4 separate regions of the Homo sapiens genome follow, and regions 2, 3 and 4 are each linked to region 1. The links come from fine-mapping of genetic effects on gene expression. A gene starts in region 1. Each other region holds a variant in brackets. All regions are shown on one strand. Distances are from middle to middle.

What was found. PIP is the estimated chance that this variant, and not a neighbour inherited with it, causes the effect.
Region 2: its variant is fine-mapped to the expression of SNX1 in whole blood (INTERVAL, PIP 0.97).
Region 3: its variant is fine-mapped to the expression of SNX1 in whole blood (TOPMed, PIP 0.97).
Region 4: its variant is fine-mapped to the expression of SNX1 in blood mononuclear cells (TOPMed, PIP above 0.99).

Annotation. Positions count from the first base shown.
Region 1 is chr15:64,093,180-64,098,443 of GRCh38, reverse strand. SNX1 (sorting nexin 1) reads right to left here and starts at 2,462. Exons shown (of 15, transcript NM_003099.5): 1 at 2,272-2,462. The coding sequence starts at 2,430. It overlaps CIAO2A (cytosolic iron-sulfur assembly component 2A), which reads left to right and starts at 4,606. Exons shown (of 5, transcript NM_032231.7): 1 at 4,606-4,799. The coding sequence starts at 4,676. RefSeq lists enhancers at 2,139-2,218, 2,359-2,478, 4,194-4,923, 4,969-5,264.
Region 2 is chr15:64,123,562-64,128,561 of GRCh38, reverse strand. It overlaps SNX1 (sorting nexin 1), which reads right to left. Exons shown (of 15, transcript NM_003099.5): 6 at 2,342-2,483; 7 at 1,310-1,388; 8 at 756-831. Among named protein-coding and RNA genes, the nearest start is that of SNX22, 26 kb to the left of the region's middle. The variant G/C (reference allele first, on the strand shown) is at 2,540.
Region 3 is chr15:64,135,160-64,140,159 of GRCh38, reverse strand. It overlaps SNX1 (sorting nexin 1), which reads right to left. Exons shown (of 15, transcript NM_003099.5): 13 at 3,750-3,830; 14 at 3,228-3,299; 15 at 1-2,592. The coding sequence ends at 2,542. Among named protein-coding and RNA genes, the nearest start is that of SNX22, 14 kb to the left of the region's middle. The variant T/C (reference allele first, on the strand shown) is at 2,266.
Region 4 is chr15:64,312,178-64,317,441 of GRCh38, reverse strand. All of the region lies in intron 1 of CSNK1G1 (casein kinase 1 gamma 1), which reads left to right. Among named protein-coding and RNA genes, the nearest start is that of CSNK1G1, 41 kb to the left of the region's middle. The variant T/C (reference allele first, on the strand shown) is at 2,169.

The DNA of each region.
Region 1 (5,264 bases):
GAGATTACACGTGTGCATGGCACTCGGCCACTGCTTCAGGTTAACTCTAGAAAATAACTCCTCACTCTTCCAGGTTCCTTTTTGGAAAATAAATCAACATTTGCCTATGTGACCAATCACTTTCAGTGTCAGAGTTTCTGTTTTCATATTCTCAGTCTGCACATCATTCCAGCAGTTACCAACAGTAGCTGTCTTCCATGACTTATAGAAGAATTACTAAAGGAACAGACTAAATACTTACTTAAAATAACATACAGAAGGACTAAATTAGCGGCAAGAATTATTATTTCTCAGGCATGCACCTGCAATCCCAGCTACTTAGGAGGAAGGGAGGATCCATTGAGCCCAGAAGTTCAAGACAAGCCTGGGCAACACAGGGAGACTATGTCTCTAAAAACAAACAAAAATTGTTTCCTGTTTTATGACAGTCACAAAGACTTATTATTTCTCAGAATAAGAGACTTCATTTGACAGTTTTAGTTGTTATATTAGAATTATCAAGCACCTTATGAGCTGAGATTATGGACTCAATTTCTGAATACAGGACAGGGAAAATCTGACACAAATGAGGAAAGCCTCAAACTTTTTCAGACCACATGTTGCATAAAGAATTTATAGCTGTTTTATTTAGTTGGTTACACACTGAGTAGCTACTGTGAAGAGAAGCATTATGCCAAACAGATAAATTCACAGACCCAGCATTGAATTTTACAGCCTGGAACAACCTATACCAAGTGGTATGAGTAAATATTCTCATAAAATAGCCCAAAACATCTCTACTGGTTCCATAACTGATTACTGATTTCCACATTACAAAGATTATTTTTTTCTAATACCTAACTCTTATTAGAGACCCGGATATTTATTACTGAGGCAGGAGAATAGGGTCTGGAGGCAGGGAACTTAAGGGCAATTCATGCTGAATCAAGGAAAAACACCAAGGTTTGGGGGCAGGGAATCTGAGGTCAACTTACGTTAACTTTCTAAAAGAGAAAACACCAAGGTCTGGGGGCAAGGAATCTAAGGCCAATTCGTGCTGACTTCCCAAAGCTGAATTCCCAAAAGGAACCCCCTGGGTTTGGGGGCAGGGAACCTAAGGCCAATTAAGGCCAACTTCCTAAAGCTAAACCAAAAGGAAAAAACCCATCTGCCCACGCCCGAGTGGCAAAGGATCAAAGGCTACTATCCCTGCAACCCTCCCCATCCACCACGTCTCACATGGAAAGGGAGAGTGCCTTAGACTGGCCGCAGGCCAAGCAGGGACCATCCGTTCATCTGCACAGGACGCCAATTCACCTCGGCCTTTAGCCACAGACCAAATCCTTCATCCAGATAAGGGGTAACCCATAGGAACCATAAAAGGAGCACTTAAAATCCAGAAAACTTTGTAAGTGGGCTCTTGAGCCCCTTGCTCCGGCCCACTCACACCCTGTGGGGTGCTTTCTCGCTTTAATAAATTCCTGCTTTCGCTGCTTCGTTTGTGTTTCATTCCTTTGTTATTTTGTGCGTTTTGTCCAATTATTTGTTCAAAATGCCAAGAACCTCGACAACCTACACTCAAGGGCCTCCTACCGGTAACATTACGGGAAACACCATTTCCTCATCACATTTCAGATTTGCTCCCAGTGAGGTACGTGGGCACTTGAACACATCCCTTTAAAAAGGAGAAAGCTTTCTGATCTATGTAGTGATTTATCTGGCAGTGCCTTCTGTCCACCAGCCTCTGGCCTGATTTTCCTAGAGATCAGAAGAATCAACATAACTTTTGTAAACTAAGATCCAGAAAGGGCCTTTGGTTATTATCGGTAAATGCTGGGCTAAAGAAAGAACTGGTGGGCGGGTCACCACCCCAGGCTAGTCCACATAACGCTATTCATCTTAGAAGCAGTAAGACGGGGGAAAGGTCTGCATCCCATTCGCTTATTCCGTCCTACTGAATCTGCCTTGGCAGGACACGACCTGCAAAATAACCCCGTGGATCCGTGGAGTGTCACCACACTGCAGGGTCAAAGGACGGCGTCGGCGGTTCTCGGCTGTTAGGGAGCTAGCCGACGAAGGCACCACAACCCTCATTCTTTACTCTTCCCGCCTGGGGGCCGGGAAGCCAAGCTCTACCGCTTCGAGCACATCCAGGGTCCCCGGGGCCCGGACTGCTGACACCGAGGCAAGGTCTCACCGGGCCCACTCTGCCCAACCTCCCCGATTCTCGCTTAGCCTCTCTTCCCTTTCGGGGTGCCCTCCCGCCTGCTACCCCGAGGGGTGCAAACTCACGACCACCGCGGCGCCGGTGAAAATGTCCTCCCCCTCGGTGTCGCTGTCCCCAGCCTCGGGTTCTGATCCCCCGGCCGCCCCCTCGGACTCCGGCTCCAGGCCGGGGAAGGGCGGAGGCAGTCTCTCCGAAGCGCTACAGCCACCACCACCCGACGCCATCTTCTTCCACCCGCGGCGGAAGCCGCAACAACAACTTTATCGAGAGATAGCGCCGTGAGCAAAGCGATCCAACGGTGCGAGGAGTGGGAGGGCCGCAAGGGACCCCGTGGGATCCGAGGGGCGGAGACCTAGGGGCGGGGCTTAGGCGCTGGGGGCGGGGCGGCACCCGGCCAGCTGAGGCTGCGCAGCAAATCCGAGGCCTGGTTCGCGATGCTGAGATATTAACGAGTGGGGCCAAAGGGGCAGAAAAGTAGGAGTTAGGGGCTGCTCAGGTTTCTAGGGCCCTTTGTGCTCTGGATAGCTTTATCCAACAGGCTTCTAAGAGTTCGTCTGAATGAAGGAGTGTCACTAAAATGTTTGAAAACCTCTACATGCCATCTACCCATGCCAAGCACAATGCCCTCACAGAGAGTCAATAAATATTTCGATTGAGGTATCTGAACAAGACTAGAAGAAAGCTTCACCACTTATTCCTTGAGCAACATTCAGTTAATTCATTAAGAAATACAGATACTGAGCATCTACTGTATGCCTGGCACCTTGCTGTGAGTTTCAGATACAGAAATCAGGTATTTAATCGACAGTTCGACATGTTCAATGCTATGGTGCCCTGTGGGAGCACAGGGAAAGAGATAATCAATTCTGCTTGGAGAAGTAGGGAGGCCTCACAGATGAAGTGAGGCCTCAGTGTCCTAGATTTGGCTGGAAAAATGTTAGGATTATCCTCTCAATTGCTGTGGAGTAAGTGGAGTGGAATAGACGGCAGGGAAATTATTGAACCCTGACCAAAATTTCCTTGGGACCTAAGCAATTCATTGTCTGGTGATCCTAAGGCCTACATTAACTAGACAAACAAGACTGGAGTTTAAAGATAAATGGGCATGTTAGCATGGGACAATTCTGCAAGATAATCCTATCTTCTCAATAGAAATGGCATTTGTCACCAACTTTGACAAGAGGTTTAGTTAGTTTGGTTGTAACTGCAAATTCAGGGATGGACTCCCTCACAGGTCATGTGAGCTGTTTGAAGGCGGGGGCAGCGTTTTATCTTTGTATCTTCCATGCCTATGGATCACCTATGGCAAATTAGTACCTACAAATTTGATCGGAGGGATGGATGGATAAAATAAAATCGATTTTGTTACTGGCATCCATCACACCCACGAACACCAGAGGGCTTAAGATACACTTTTTTTTTTTTTTTTTTTTTTGAGGGAAGTCTCGCTCTTCTCCCCCAGGCTTGAGTGCAATGGCTCGATCTTGGTTCACTGCAACCTCTGCCTCCTGAGTTCAAACGATTCTCCTGCCTCTGCCTCCCAAGTAGCTGGGATTAAGGCCCCTGCCACCACGCCCAGCTAATTTTTGTATTTTTTAGTAGAGACGGGGTTTGCCCATGTTGGCCAGGCTGGTCTCGAACTCCTGACCTCAGGTGATCCGCCCGCCTCGGCCTCCCAAAGTGCTGGGATTATAGGCGTGAGCCATCGCGCCCGGCCAAGATACACTTTTAAGGATGGCGATCTCCATTATGTCACCACTGTACACATTAGACACGGGAAAACTTATGTTCTAAGTTGTCTTTGGAGGCCATTAGCAGAAATATTCGTTCAAAGGTGGGAAGCTGTGCTGGACTGAGTCCCTTAGGAGACGAGAAAGCCAAAAAGCCCTCCCCATGCCATACCTGACTACCTCACTGGCTTCCCATGACATCCCTTTTCACAGCAACTGAAACCTACTTCCTGTCCGATCAGGAAGTAAGAAAGACGTTGGCTGTCAGCGGATCCCGCGGAGAAATAATTGTAAAGAGTCTCCGTGCTGGAGAACTCAAGATCTCCTTTCCCCTACCCCTTCAGGATTCATCTTTAACTTATCACGGATACTGAGTGAGTCAGTCGCGGTTAACAGACCGTTACATCCACTTCTACCAGGCGGACACTACAAGTCCCAGAATACAATTCGCTGCCTTCCGAAGAAAATAGCTCACGCATCCCAGCATGCAATGTGCTGACGAGCCGCGAAGATTGTTTTTGTCCCGCCGAAATCGAGCAAAGCACGCTGGAACTTGTAGTCCTTGAGGCCCCTTCCCTAGGTCCTTCGAGCTACTCCGTCTGGCCCCGCCTTTTCTCTGCTCTCCTGAACCTTTAGGCTTGTCTCGGCCCATTTGAAGACCAGGAAGTTGATCAATCCCGAGGCTGCTGAGAGACGGTGGCGCGATTGGGACAGTCGCCAGGGATGGCTGAGCGTGAAGATGCAGCGGGTGTCCGGGCTGCTCTCCTGGACGCTGAGCAGAGTCCTGTGGCTCTCCGGCCTCTCTGAGCCGGGAGCTGCCCGGCAGCCCCGGATCATGGAAGAGAAAGCGCTAGAAGTTTATGGTAATTAATTTTACCCAGCACAGCATTTGGCGTTATAGGTGCAGGCCGGAGCTGAGGGGTGCGGGGATGATGGCCTCACCTGAGGGCTGGGAGGGGAGACCTTTTTTTTTGTTTGTTTGTTTGTTTGTTTTTGGCCAGATCTTGTCCGGGGCGTAGCAGGCGCTTTCTTCGGGGTCCTAAGTCACGTGGGGGGTGTGGGTCTTTCTGGGAACTGGGCTCTTCGTAAACCTGGGGCAAGCCGAACCCAGAGGTCTTAAAAGCTTCATTCTCCACGTGTGGCCTACGTCTTAGTAACCATTCCAAGACTTGTGGGGAGACCACAAGTCTAGGGTGCCTGGTTAGGAAGCAAAGCTGGCCTGATTGCACTACTAGAGCCTCGTTCTCTAGCTCCTGGACACGCACTCTTGCTACCGCTGAGGGCGCTTGTGGGTGACAGTCGAGTTGGGGACTGGCCCAAGGTCACAG
Region 2 (5,000 bases), 30 kb before region 1:
CATACAAATGAAAGAAAAATTTAAAAATAAAAATTAAAGCAAAATGATAGCCCTACCCAGTCACTTACTTCCTTCTAGTTTGCTTTCCTGTGAGATAAAACATTTCACTCCAGTGTTTCTTTTGATCCTTAATGACTTACATGTTTCTACAGCTGTATTTATATGCTATTTCATGTTTCAAATTTTGTAATTCTTTTAACATACATGTCCATGTACTAACATTTCTGTATACTTTGTTTATGATGAGAATCAAGTATTTGGTTATATTGATATATTTTACTTAATTCTTCCACTGTTAGCAATTGGGCTGTTTTCAGTTTTTGACAATCATGACTAGCCTACGCATAGCCTGTGAAAGAGACTGTCTACTTCAATCAACACTTTTCCTACATGGTAGTTCTGTGGTTTGTGGTAACTGTTAACCAGTGACCCGCCTGGCATAAAATATACATTCAATCTGAGCCAAGAAGTAACCTACAACATGCCAAGGACCTGCCAAATAGATCACTGTGTTGATCCAGTAAGACAATACTAGGCTGCTATTTGACCCTTACAACCAACTGCTTTTGACTTCGGGCAGAGCTTCTTTTATTTCAAAGGCTGAAAAATACTTGTCACTCTCAGGGGTTCACACAAAACTAGGATACAGTCTAGTACTAGGCATGTTAAGTGCTCACATATTTTTGGAATGAACTAGTTTCGTTTCACTAGGGGCAGATATAAATTATGAAATTCAGTTTGCACTGAATACTAACCTCTTCTTTTTCCAAGAACTCTCTGACGTCAGGGTCCTGTAACATGGTAGGATGATTTACAATCCTCTGAAGGTACCTAAAAGGTAAGCAGTTATCATCTGGTTAGTTGAGCTGGCCTCAGAAGGTTCTGGGCGTCACACAGTGCTGGCAGTGATACCATGTCTTCTGTACTTTTTGTACTTAAAGTACCCTAAGATAAGGTACTTAAGTAGGTCTCTCCTTGTAAGCATATTCAAGTTCACATTCCTGACATTTCCAAAAAGGGAGGGAAAAATAACTGGTCAGAAAGAAACCTCAGAGCCATTCATATTTGATTGATTGTCTAAGAATATGACTGCCTGCTCACTCAGGATGGGGAAAAAACAGAAGATGGTCTATTCTCAAGGTGGGAAAATAAGCGACTCAGGAAAAGTTAAGAGATAATATGGAGGTGTGCAACTTCAATTTATTCACGTTTCATCTCTAACTCAATGGACTGTCTCGTCATTTAGACTCACTTTTCAGCTTTTCATTTGTCCTCACATTATTCAGGAAAATGGCTGCATGGCACTTACCTTTCTAAAGCGGCCCTCCGTTTTTCAAGAAATTCTGCAGAAGAAGAATCTTCCTTCCCAACTTTCACTTTTGTCATCCCTAGAATGGAATTTAAAAAGCAAAATAACCATAAATCATCATGAAGAGGATAAATCTTTTTTTTTTTTAAGTGTCAACAGGAGGAAAGGCAGTGAGGCTAGCACACAGCCTAAGGCCACTTCTATGTTATATGCAGGGATGAACAAAAGGTTCTTTACATGAGAGCCACTTTTGAAAACTAGTCTCTAAGTGCTGAAGGTTCTAAACTCTAGGACTTGCAGAGTAAACATTTTCTTAAAAAGGCGGCCATGGAACCCTGAGTACAAACATCAACTGATGTTAATGAAGAGGCTCCTGGCCGGGCGCAGTGGCACACACCTGTAATCCCAGCACTTTGGGAGGCCAAGGCGGGCGGACCACGAGGTCAAGAGATCAAGACCATCCTGGCCAACGTGGTAAAACCCTGTTTCTACTAAAAATACAAAAATTAGCTGGGCATGGTGGCGGGCACCTGTAGTCCCAGCTAAGCGGGAGGCTGAGGCAGGAGAATCTCTTGAACCCGGAAGGTGGAGGTTTCAGTGAGCTGAGATCGCGCCACTGCACTCCAACCTGGTGACAGAGCGAGACTCCACCTCAAAAACAAACAAACAAACAAAAACCAAAAAACCAACCAAACAAACAAACAAAATGAAGAGGTTTCTTCCTCTGACCCCTAATCCAATGTAGTCTATTTCAATCTGGAGGCAACCGCAATCATGTAAGACTCCTGAAGACCAACAGAAAACAAACGAACATCTCTGGAGGCTAAACCCAGAGCTCCTACTGCACCCAAGGAGAACATGCCAAAATATGCTATTTTTCTCTAGACCTCCAGTGTAGGAAAACACTGGAAATGTCTCTTTTCTAACCACAAGACTGTTAATAGAAGTAGTCTCATATACTGAACAGTGAGTGAATTTTGGAGAGAATGCAAAGGAAAACAATCCAAGTGGAATGAAAGACCACAGGCTTACCTATGAGGCTCTTCTCCGGGGGCGGAGGGACAATGAAGCCATTCTGAGAGTGCTTCTCGGAAAGCTTCTCATAAAGACCCAGAAAGTCACTAAATCTTCTTTTTACTGCAAACTGTTTGCTTCTGAACAATGGTAAGCTTGTCTTGGGGACAGGAAAAAACACAAGGCAATTTCATTCCAAATAGGGGATGGTATCTT[G/C]AAAGTCATCCTATTGACATTAAAGAAACCCATTTCCCAGATCCCTGCCCTTCAGTCACCTGGCAAATAACTTTCTCCAAGGCAGAGAGTCTTAAACTTTTTAAAACTATAGTTCCCCTTTGGCAGTCTGGGAGCCTAAGGAGCTCTTCTCAGAATAATGATTTTAAATGCAAAAAATATATAGGATTATAAAGGCAATCAATTAAATTCAAATACATCTGAAGCCATGGTGACCCTTGAGAAAAAAAAATTCAAATACAGTTTCATTCCCAGGTTAAGAACTCTTGTTCTAAAGAAAGAAATGTTCAGTTCTAGTTTAAAGCTAGAATTCTATAGTAACCAGTAACCCATTCATCTTTTATTGACTATTTTTTTTTGGAGACAGGATCTCACTTTGTTGCCCAGGCTGGAGTGCATTGGTGCGATCACAGCTTACTGCAGCCTCAAACTCCTGGGCTTAAGCGATCCTCCCACCTCAGCCTCCCAAGTAGCTAGGAATACAGGCACACGCTACCATGCCCAGCTCATTCTTCACTGCTTTTTTTTTTTTTTTTTTTTGAGATGGAGTCTCACTCTGTCACCCAGGCTGGAGTGCAGTGGTGCAATCTTGGCTCACTGCAACCTCCACCTCCCAGGTTCAAGCAATTCTCTTGTCTCAGCCTCCTGAGTGGCTGGGATTACAGGCTCCTGCCACCAGGCCCAGCTAATTTTTATAGTTTTTTAGTAGAGATGGGGTTTCACCATGTTGGCCGGGCTGCTCTCGAACTCCTGACCTCAGGTGATCCACCTGCCTCAGCCTCCCAAAGTGCTGGGATTACAGGCGTGAGCCACTGCGCCAAGCCTCATTGACTTATTTAAGGGTATTAGCTGCTGGAATTACAGCAGCCAAACTAAAGACAGACAAAAAGTGCTTCTAAGAAGGGGAAGCAGGTGATGAGCAGGGTGGGAATTGGATGAAATGTCTAAGCTGTAGACAGTAACCTCTAAAGTATCATAATCTAGAGCTCACAGGACGCAGGCCAACAAGTAGTAGAGAGACAATACAAAGCAGATTTCTACCAAAAAAGTTAGGGCTACATCACAATGAGAGTTCACTTTAAACTCACCAGATAGGCAAAATTTAAGGAGGTTGGCCTCACCAATTGCTGGCAAGGAAGTGAATCAATGGGAACTTTTATACACTGCTGATGGGGTACAAATTGGTACAAAGACTTTAAAAAACAGTTTGTATTCCTTGTGTCCAATATTTGCAGTACCTATGACCCACGGGAATTACTCCTGGTTACATACTCTAGAGAAATCCTTCTACGTGTGTACTAGAGATGTGCAAGAAAGTTCCCAGTTACAAAAACCAGAAACATGTTGACAGCAGAAAATGTTCACAACAGGAAAACATAAATATTTTGTGGTATATGAACTAACTACAGCCATGACCATCAAGGATGGGTGAGAGAAACAATGCTAAATAAAGCAAGCACAATTATCAGCATGATACTATTTTTTTTTTTTTTTTTTTGAGACAGAGTCTCCCTCTGTCGCCCAGGCTGGAGTGCAGTGGCGCGATCTCGGCTCACTGCAAGCTCCGCCTCCCGGGTTCACGCCATTCTCCTGCCTCAGCCTCCCCAGCAGCTGGGGCTACAGGTGCCTGCCACCATGCCCAGCTAATTTTTTTGTATTTTTAGTAGAGACAGGGTTTCCCTGTGTTAGCCAGGATGGTCTCGATCTCCTGACCTTGTGATCTGCCCGTCTCAGCCTCCCAAAGTGCTGGAATTACAGGCGTGAGCCACCGTGACCGGCCCCCATGATACTATTTTTATGAAACTCAAAACAAAGCAAAACAGTCATATATATATATATATATATATATATATATATGTAAAGATTTCTTATAAAGGAAATGAGAGACAACTCAGGAGAAAGGACACCTCTAAGGTATGAGGCAGGGGATATGATGGAAAAACACGCAGGTGGATCCAATGATACTCAACTTTAAGACTAGTGGTAAGTTTAGGGCTTCATTTATTATGCTTCCTAACTTGTATACAACATTGTATACATTTTGTATGCATTAATATTATATACAAAAGAAGAGCAGACTAGAGGGGCAAAAGGTTAAGTATTTAAAAAAGCTCTCTGAAACCTCAGAAGCATTGAAGATTTTAAAAGATGGTTTAGGGCAATCTGTGAATCTAGCTCCAAACCACATGGTTCTCTAAGAGGGATGGGGCTGTATCAGATATACCACGAGTTAATAGAATCACACTGAAATGTTAGCTTTCTGGAAGAGTATTAAAAAGACTCAGTCTGGAGTACCCAGATGAGATTACCAAGGGGATGCAGGCTTGCTCTATCTTGAGTAAACATGAAGATGTTGGCAAAGAAACAAAGGAGATACCCAGAAATAATCTGAATGATGACCTTGGTATAAGCACCAAAGTCTATGAAGATGGTCATCAGCAGG
Region 3 (5,000 bases), 42 kb before region 1:
ACTATATAACTGGTGAATGAGGAACAAAATACTTATATAGTCTCAAAGTATCTCCCCACAAATTACTTGTAAATTACAAAGAGGAAATCGTAAATTTAAAATGAAATCTGGCAGACACCAACCTAAGCGGTGAACAGAGTTAACAACATTAATGGGACCAACTGACATTATATGCTGATTACGACGCACTGACGACACACTGCTTCTGTGATATTCCCACCCAGAATGCAAAACCCTCACCTAGTCATGCGGAACCATCACACAAATCCAAACTGAGGAACATTCGACAAAATAGCCTGTATTCTTCAAAAATGTCATGGTAATGAAAGACAAAAGAAAGTTGAGGAATCTGCAGTATTGAGAGACACACGTTTACAAATGTAACATGATCCTGCACAAGGTAAAAGAATGGCTACAAAGGACATTATTGGGATAAATGGCAAAATTTAAATATGAATCATGGGTTAGATAACAGTATTAAATCACTGTTAAACTTCCTGATTTTGATAATAATACTTAAAAAAATACTGAATAATGCTTAAAGTAATTCTCTTCTTCTCTTAGAAGAGAATGTCCTGTTCTTAGGGAAATGCATACTGTTTTGGGCATAATGGGGTATCTGTGCAAATTATTCTCAAATGATTAAGAAAATGCAACATGAAATATAGATAAGGCAAATGGGATAAAATGTAAACACTCAGTAAATCTGGATAAAAGATATATAGGAGTTCTTTGTGATATTCCTGCAACTTTTCTGTAAATCTGAAATTGTATTCAAAATTTTAAAGTTACCAATAAAACAAAACAAACAACCCCTGACCAAGAATCCAACAACAAGGGATGAATCAAAATTATGGTACAGTCACCCTATGGATGCCTTCAAATTACACAGCTTTACAGATCAACTTTGTGAAGATATATAACAATATAGTAAAATGCTTATAACATGTACAATGTTGAATGATAAAAGCAGGATACAAAATACTTTATGTGTATATTATTACAACTATGTAAAAGCAAGCATATAATAAAGACTGGAAGGATAAAACCAAAGTTGATGGTAAGGATACTGAGGGGTAGGGAGAGTGACTTTTTCCAAAAACTTCACCTGTTAAAAAGAAATACTTGCACCACTGGCCCTTCCCCTGGTGCTGCATCTGTGTACAGGGAATCAGAATGTTTACTGCGTTTTCTTGTCTCAGGTTGCCTCGCCCCAAACCTTAGCCCCCCACCAAAGAGAACTGATACAGCAGGACCTGGGGCCCCAGTGGCAGGAGCGTCTTTGGGATGGAGGGGCTGGAGGTGGCAAGGCTCCCATAGTGGCAGTCAGCAGCTCGAGCTCACAAAGGAGCTTCAAAGCCCACTCTGACCAGTATAGCTTGAGCAGCTGTGGACACAGCTAAGGGGGAAGCCCATCCTTGACTGACGAGACTCTGGCCTCCCCTGGCTAGACCGGCAGAGATCTGTGTGAACACCCTTTGGCTGTGTGTGCAACTCCTGAGGGCTCTTGCTGGCAGGCTACCTCCTGGGCACAGACAGTAGAGCTTCTTTGAACCTCCTAAGGTTCAGGAGCTCTTGGATCACCCTATCTAGAGGCAGAGGGCATGGCTTTCATGTCTATGGAGACAAAGCATCAAGTCATTATCAGACCTTCACACCTTCACACAGTCTACTGAGGATGTGTTTTGATGGGTGACAAAAATAGGTTTAGTTATATATAAGACTTGCCATCAGAGGGCAAGACTCAGAGAACCCTGAGCAGCTTAGGGAAGCAGGAAGAATAAAAGAGAAAGGCTCTTGCTTAATGATAGGGACACCAAAAAAAAAAAAAAAAGAGAGAGAGAAAGTCTCTGCCTCCTTTGCAGGAGAATAGGTTTTAATAGATTTTGCTCCTCTTATTTTAAGAGATGTTTTTAAAACTCCTTCCCTAAAGAAGTGGGAATACGAAACAGATTGAGACCCTCAGAACAGGTAGCTGAGGTAGGCGGAGAGAAAGAAACCCCATTTCCAGAGGGAAGCAGCAGCACAAAACTTGTGAACGGTAGAGAAAAACTTACTATACCTGGGCAACTTCTTGGTTAGGAGTATTCCAGACCTGATTCCCAACTGCTCCCCAGCCTAAGCAAAAACCACCAACATTCTGAGTCATGTGACCTGATTTTAAAATATTTTATTACATAACCTTTTCATGGCACCATCAGGAGTAACAGAAAACGTTATTCCCAGTTCCTAAACCACATCCTGAAAAATATACATTTGTATTTA[T/C]ATATTTATATCAATACTCCACCCCATCCCATAATTCCACCACCTATTGTAGGTCTTTTGCTTAAAGCAGGAAACTATTCTCTTAGGTAAGAAAATATATATGGAAGCTAAATGAAATAACGGTTAGAGTAACTGGGGACAGTTGGTCGTGGGGACAGGGAGGAAGGGGTTAAGTCCAGCCTAGGCAGGATGCATCACTAGGGGTCCATCAAGGTGGAGGAGGACAGTGTATAAAAAGGCAGCGTCACACAGGTGGGCTCTGGGGTCCTTGGTCCATTAGGAGATGGCCTTTGCCTCAGGAAGGAAGGCTTCCCAGTACTTTGCCAGCTGCAAAGAAGTGGGGACATTAAGCAAGTGCCCCCACCTAGTGGCAGAGCCTAAGCCAGCCTGGGAGGAATCAAGCACAGTACCCTGGCGCTCCCCAAGCGCCTGCCACACAAAGGCAGGCTCCGAGCAGCTGCACAGGCCACATGACCTTCACACCTCCCTCTCGACAGGGAAGGCAGCAGTTACTGAGCCCCAAGTGCAAGGGCAGTCTCTGAAGACAGTCTTGGCTCCACCCCAGAGGGAGCACCCCTGTGGTGGCCACAGCTTTGCCTGGCTCAGTTAGTTCCTCACAGTGGGGCCACTGTTTCACATACCGATGAGGCCTCAGCCTCAGGAGGGCCAGGTGGTACCATGGGGTGGCTCCTCGAAGGGTAAGCAGTTACAGGGAGATGGGGTTTGTCCTCAAAAACTAACTCACCTCAGAATGAGGGCAGCAGACCTGGGCCCTCCTGCTTGGTAAAAGACCCTGTTGGATGCTCCATGTCAGAGCAGCAGGACCTATTTTCAATGATGGACTATAGGAGGGCCCAGCCCCTCAGAAGCAGGGCCTGCACATCTTGTTGCAGAAGCCCCGAGGAGGCAGCTGGCCTTTGGAGCAGGCAGTAGAGGATGAAGGTCACACACAACTTACATACCTGCTGCTGTGAGTAAAGGAGTGTCTCAAGGTACTTGATCACGTGGTTCTTGAAGTCCTTGGATTTCTCTTTCTAGGAGACAAGATTCTACACTGACCATCCAGTTTTTGCTTTCCCTTTCGATGGGATGGTGGTGTTTATTGCTGACCAAGGCCAAACACAGTCTCAGAAAGTAGAGGCAGCAGGTGGAACAGCTGTAATTTCCAGCCAAAGAGGGTCTGCCAAGGCCTTGAAAGGCTTTGTTGGAGGGCAGGAGATGGGAAGTGGAGGAGAAACGACAGGGGACCGAGGGTATATGGCAGCTGCAAGATTTGTGTTTAACTGCTGTGGTCCAGCCACAAGTGTAAGATTGCCACTGTTCCTAGGATCAAGCACACACCCCCCCAAAGAAGGCCACGCCTGCTCACGAGAACTGCCAAGTTACTGGCACCTCTCTCTTTACCCAACAGAGTTGGACAACACCAAGAGTACTCCCAAAACAAGCACTGCATGCTAAGTGAGAAGTAGGATTTTCTATCTCACCTCAAACCGTATCACTTCTTTTCGGACCACTGTTGAAATCCTCTCGAAGTCCCTTTCATATTGAGTCACCCGAGACTCCCACTGGGAAGAAAGAGGAAAGAAAGGATCACCTCATATTATGGCACCATTATTAAGCCTTCACATTTGGACAGCGATTTTACATATGAGGGCTCAATTGATCATTATGTCTGTCTGTCCCTGTGGGTAAGATGAGGTGTCACAGAGGATTCCACACGTAAGTCAGAGTCCGGCAGAAGGCTACTTTAGGGGCTGACTGGAAAAGAGATGCCTGTGTTTCAGGCATCTGGGACCAAGTGTGGTCCTTCAAGAAGGCTCTGACATGCCAGCAGCCTCCAGTTTAGGTACTCACCAGCAGGGCTGAAAGGCCTGGAAAACTTAATTTAGTTCTCACGAGAAGGCATATCTGAATCAGCTAGGTAGCTTTTCAAAGACCCAGCCAGGACCCCTCCTGCCAAGATTTTTTTTTTTGAGATGGAGTCTCGCTCTGTCATCCAGGCCGGAGTACAGTGGTGCGATCTTGGCTCACTGCAACCTCTGCCTCTCAGGTTCAAGCGGTTCTCGTGCCTCAGCCTCCTGAGTAGCTAGGACTACAGGCGTGTGCCATCACGTCTAATTTTTTTTTTTTTTTTTTTGAGACAGAGTCTTGCTCTGTTGCCAGGCTGGAGTGCAGTGGCGTGATCTCAGCTCACTGCAACCTTCGCCTCCCAGGTTCAAGCGATTCTCCTGCCTCAGCCTCCTGAGTATCTGAGACTATAAGTGGGTGCTACCACGCCCAGCTAATTTTTGTATTTTTTTTAGTAGAGACGGGGTTTCACCATGTTGGCCAAGATGGTCTCAATCTCTTGACCTCGTGATCCACTCACCTTGGCCTCCCAAAGTGCTGGTATTACAGGCGTGAGCCACCGTGCCCAGCCCTGGCTAATTTTTTGTATTTTTAGTAGAGATGGGGTTTTACCATGTTGGCCAGGCTGGTCTAAAACTCCTGACCTCGGCCGGGCGCGGTGGCTCACGCCTGTAATCCCAGCACTTTGGGAGGCCGAGGCAGGTGGATCACAAGGTCAGGAGATCGAGACCATCTTGGCTACTAACACGGTAGTACAAAAAATTAGCCAGGTGTGGTGGCAGGAGCCTGTAGTCCCAGCTACTTGGGAGGCTGAGGCAGGAGAATGGCGTGAACCCAGGAGGCAGAGCTTGCAGTGAGCTGAGATCGCGCCACTGCACTCCAGCCTG
Region 4 (5,264 bases), 220 kb before region 1:
TAAAAGGAACTTAATCTGATAAAGACTCTACAAAAATTCTATAGAAAACTTTAGGCCGGGCACAGTGGCTCACGCCTGTAATCCCAGCACTTTGGGAGGCCAAGGCTGGCGGATCACCTGAGGTCAGGAGTTTGAGACCAGCCTGGCCAACATGGTGAAACACTGTCTCTACTAAAAATAGAAAAATTAGCCGGGCGTAGTGGCGCACACCTGTAATCCCGGCTACATAGGAGGCTGAAGCAGGAAAATTGCTTGAACCTGGGAGGCGGAGGTTGCAGTGAGCCTAGATTATGCCACTGCACTCCAGCGTGGGCGACAGAGCGAGACTCCATCTCAAAAAAAAAGTTCCATGTCTCTAAAGGCTGTGACATGATAATAGCAGCAATAATACGAATTATGATGTAGCAGGACAAGCCGCAGACAAAACCCCTCAGACACCAAAGGGCTTTATTCGGCCGGGAGCATCAGCAAACTTAGGTCTCAAAAAACCAAGCTCTCCAAGTGAGCAATTCCTGTCCCTTTTAAGGGCTTACAACTGTAAGGGGGTCCACGTAAGAGGGTCATGATCGATTGAGCAAGCAGGGGGTACGTGACTGGGGGCTGTATGCACGGGTATTCAGAATGGAACAGAACAGGACAGAGATTTTCATGATGCTTTTCCATACAATGTCTGGAATCTATAGATAACACAAGCAGTTAAGTCAGGGCTTGATTTTTAACTACCAGGCCCAGGGCTCAGAGCTGGGCTGTCTGCCTGTGAATTTCATTTCTGCCTTTTAGTTTTTACTTCTTTTTTCTTTGGAGGCAGAAATTGGGCATAAGACAACATGAGGGGTGGTCTCCTCCCTTTATGATAGACAAGCTGTATTAACTTTTTTTCTTTTCTTTTTTTTTTTTTTTTTTTTTGAGACAGAGTCTTGCTCTCTCGTCCAGGCTGGAGAACAGTGGCATGATTTCAGCTTACTGCACCCTCCACCTCCTGAGTTCCATTGATTCTCCTGCCTTAGCCTCCCAAGTAGCTGGGACTACAGGCGTGTGCCACCATGCCCGGCTAATTTTTGTAGTTTTAATAGAGACAGGTTTTGCCCTGTTTTCCAAGCTTGTCCTGAACTCCTGGCCTCAAGTGATGAGCTCGCCTTGGCCTCCCAAAGTGTTGGGATTACAGGCGTGAGCCACCGAGCCCAACCTGCATTAACTTTTTCTGTTTGTTTGTTTGTTTGTTTGTTTGTTTGTTTGTTTTAAAAAGCAAAACTGAGTGCCAGTGGCTTATGTTTTTAATCCCAGTGCTTTGAGAGGCTGGGGTTGGAGGATTGCTAAAGGCCAGGAGTTCAAGGCTGCCATGAGCTCTGACCATGCTACTGCACTCCGGCGTAGCTGACAGAGCGAGACCCTATCTGTTAAAACAAACAAGCAACAACAACAGCAAAACCCAAATGTGTGCTTTAAATAGATAAATTGTATAGTAGGTGAATTATATTTAATAAAGCTGTTTTTAAAAAACACAGATTTGACCCATGGAGAAATTTTGCCCCAGAAAGGGGGCATAAATATAGTATTCAAGTGAGGAAGAGCATTCAGTGTGTTAGAAGAAATTTTAAGTCTCTCGAGGGAGGAATAATTAGCTCCTTTGAAAAAAATTTGTGGACATGTTAAAATCACTGCACAGATTTTTTAAAAAAAATTGTTTCAGGAGGACAGTTGTGAGGCCAGTGCACTTTTGGCTCAGTGGGAATGAATGGGTAAGTGAGTGGGCAAGCAGGATCATTTGGTTGGTGTGGCAGAAGGGAGGAGGGCTCAGGCTTTTTGGACTCCTTTGACTGTGTTTGACAGTGTGACCTAGTCAGTGAACATAATTCTGTGAGGCTCAGCGTCCTTTTTGAAAAGGAATAATTGCCTTTACTAAGGCAAGTAATTCCAGTTTGACTCCACTGAATAGGTCACACAGCACCTAGAGTCAATCGTTTAGAAAATGTAAATGCTTTTTGTAAAGCTAAATCCCTTTAAGCATAAATGTCAGTACCATTCTTAAATGTCTTCTTATTGGACTATCAGTGACCTATAAAATCCTGAACAATGGACTCCTGCTACCTCTTTACTTTGCTCATTGTAATCCCCGGCGTTGCTGGTCTTCTTTCACCAAAAGCCTTTCTTAATAGGCTGCTGCTTTT[T/C]CCTTTCTGGAAACTGTGTTCCCTAGCTCTTGACAAGGTTGGCTCCATCTCTTCCTTGAGGACACTGTTTAAATGTGGCTTCTAATTTATGTTTTCACAACAGTGTACAAGGATTCCCTCTTCTTCTCATCCGCACCAATACTTGTTATCTTTGGTCTTTTTTGTAATTGCCATCTGACAGAGTAAGAATGTAAGTTAGTATTCCTATTATGGAAAACTGTATGGAGGTTTGTCAAAAAACTAAAAATAGAATTACTACATGATCCAGCAATACCACTTCTGGGTATTTATCCAAAAGATTTGAAATCAGTTTGTTGAAGAGATGTCTGCTTTCTTATGTTCATTGCAGCATTATTCACAATAGCCAAGTTATGGAATCAACCTAAGTGTTCAACACATGAATGAATAAAGAAAATGTACACACACACGCACACACATATACATATTCAGCCTTAAAGAAGGAATTATGTCATTTGTGGCAACTTGGATGGAACTGGAGAATATTTTATTATGCTAAGTAAAATAAGCCAGGTACAGAAAAACAAACACCGCGTGTTCTTACTTATGTGTGGAATCTAAAACAACTGAACTCATAGAAGCAGAGAATAGAATGGTGGTTACAGAGCCTGGAGGGTTGAGAAAGTGGTGAGACCATGGTTAAAGGGAACAAAATCTCAGCTGAGGGATATGTTTTTTTTTTTTTTTTTTAATTCTGTGGTACAGTGTGGTGAAGATAGTTTTTGTACATTTTAAAATTGCTGAGAGAATAAATTTCAAATATTCTTACCACAAAAATGTTAAGTATTTAAGGTAATGGATATGTTAACTAGCTTGATTTAATTATTATATATTATATTCATAAATTATAACATTACTTTGTACCCCTTACATTTATATAATTATAAATTGTCAACATACAATTTTTAAACTTTTAAAAAATAAATGTGTCTTCTAATAAAAGGCTTCCCACCCCTCTATCTAAAACTCTTCCATGCTGTGCATGGTGACACATGCCTGTAATCCCGGTTTCTCAGGAGGCTGGGGTGGGAGAATCTGTTGAACCCATGTGTTCAAGGCTGCATTGCACTGTGATCTCACCTGTGAACAGGCACTACACTCCAGCCTGGGCTACATAGCAAGAACACATCTCTAAATATGAATAAAATAAAACTTTCCTCTTTGATTTCACCGTAATCCTTAGTTTAGCAGATCTTTGATATGTAGCATCGTCCCGATTTGTGTTTTTTTAATTCATGTGTTTGTGAGGCCCTCTCTACACTAGAAGTTCTGTGAGCAGAGGAGCTGTATATGTCAAGTTCACTGTTATATCCTCAGTGGAATAACCCAGTTTTAGGCACATAGGAGGCACTCACTGAATAGTTATTTATTAATTTTTTTTTTTTGCCATATACCTACAACCTTCTAACTTTTATTTTTAAGATTAAAAAAAAAGTTCTTGGTTTTTGGGGTTTTTTTTTTTTTCTCCCAGCAGGAGATTTTTTTTCTTACTTTTAAAAAATTATTATTATACTTTAAGTTCTGGGGTACCTGTGCAGAACATGCAGTTTTGTTACATAGGTATACACGTGCCATGGTAGTTTCCTGCACCCATCAACCCATCACCTACATTAGGTATTTCTCCTAATGCTATCCCTACCCTAGCCCCACACCCCCCAACAGGCCCCAGTGTGTGATGTTCCCCTCCCTGTGTCCATGTGTTCTCATTGTTCAGCTCCCACTTATGAATGAGAACATGCGGTGTTTGATTTTCTGTTCTTGTGTTAGTTTGCTGAGAATGATGGTTTCCAGCTTCATCCATGTCCCTGCAAAGGACATGAACCCATCTTTTTTTATGGCTGCATAGTATTCCATGGTGTATATATGCCACATTTTCTTTATGCAGTCTATCATTGATGGACATTGGGGTTGGTTCCAAGTCTTTGCTATTGTGAATAGTGCCACAATAAACATACGTGTGCATGTGTCTTCATAGTAGAATGATTTATAACCCTTTGGGTATATACCCAGTAATGGGATTGCTGGGTCAAATGGTATTTCTAGTTCTAGATCCTTGAGGAATTGCCACACTGTCTTCCACAATGGTTGAACTAATGTACACTCCCACCAACAGTGTAAAAGCATTCCTATTTCTCCACATCCTCTCCAGCATCTGTTTCCTGACTTTTTAATGATCACCATTCTAACTGGCGTGAGATGGTATCTCATTGTGGTTTTGATTTGCATTTCTCTAATGACAGTGATGATGAGCATTTTTTCATGTTTGTTGGCTGCATAAATGTCTTCTTTTGAGAAGTGTCTGTTTATATCCTTTGCCCACTTTTTGATGGGGTTGTTTGTTTTTTTCTTGTAAATTTGTTTAAGTTCTTTGTAGATTCTGGATATTAGCCCTTTGTCAGATGGATAGATTGCAAAAATTTTCTCCCATTCTGTAGGTTGCCTGTTCACTCTGATGATAGTTTCTTTTGCTGTGCAGCAGCTGTTTAGTTTAATTAGATCCCATTTGTCAATTTTGGCTTTTGTTGCCATTGCTTTTGGCGTTTTAGACATGAAGTCTTTGCCCATGCCTATGTCCTGAATGGTATTGCCTGGGTTTTTATCTAGGATTTTTATGGCTTTAGGTCTTACATTTAAGTCTTTAATCCATCTTGAGTTAATTTTTGTATAAGGTGTAAGAAAGGGGTCCTGTTTCAGTTTTCTGCATATGGCTAGCCAGTTTTCCCAACACCATTTATTAAATAGGGAATCCTTTCCCCATTTCTGGTTATTGTCAGGTTTGTCAAAGATCAGATGGTTGTAGATGTGTGGTGTTATTTCTGAGGCCACTGTTCTGTTCCATTGGTCTATATATCTGTTTTGGTCCCAGTACCATGCTGTTTTGGTAACTGTTGCCTTGTAGTATAGTTTGAAGTCAGGTAGCGTGATGCCTCCAGCTTTGTTCTTTTTGCTTAGGATTGTCTTGGCTATGCGGGCTCTTTTTTTGGTTCCATATGAAGTTTAAAGTAGTTTTTTCCAATTCTGTGAAGGAAGTCAATGGTAGCTTGATGGGGATAGCATTGAATCCATAAATTACTTTGG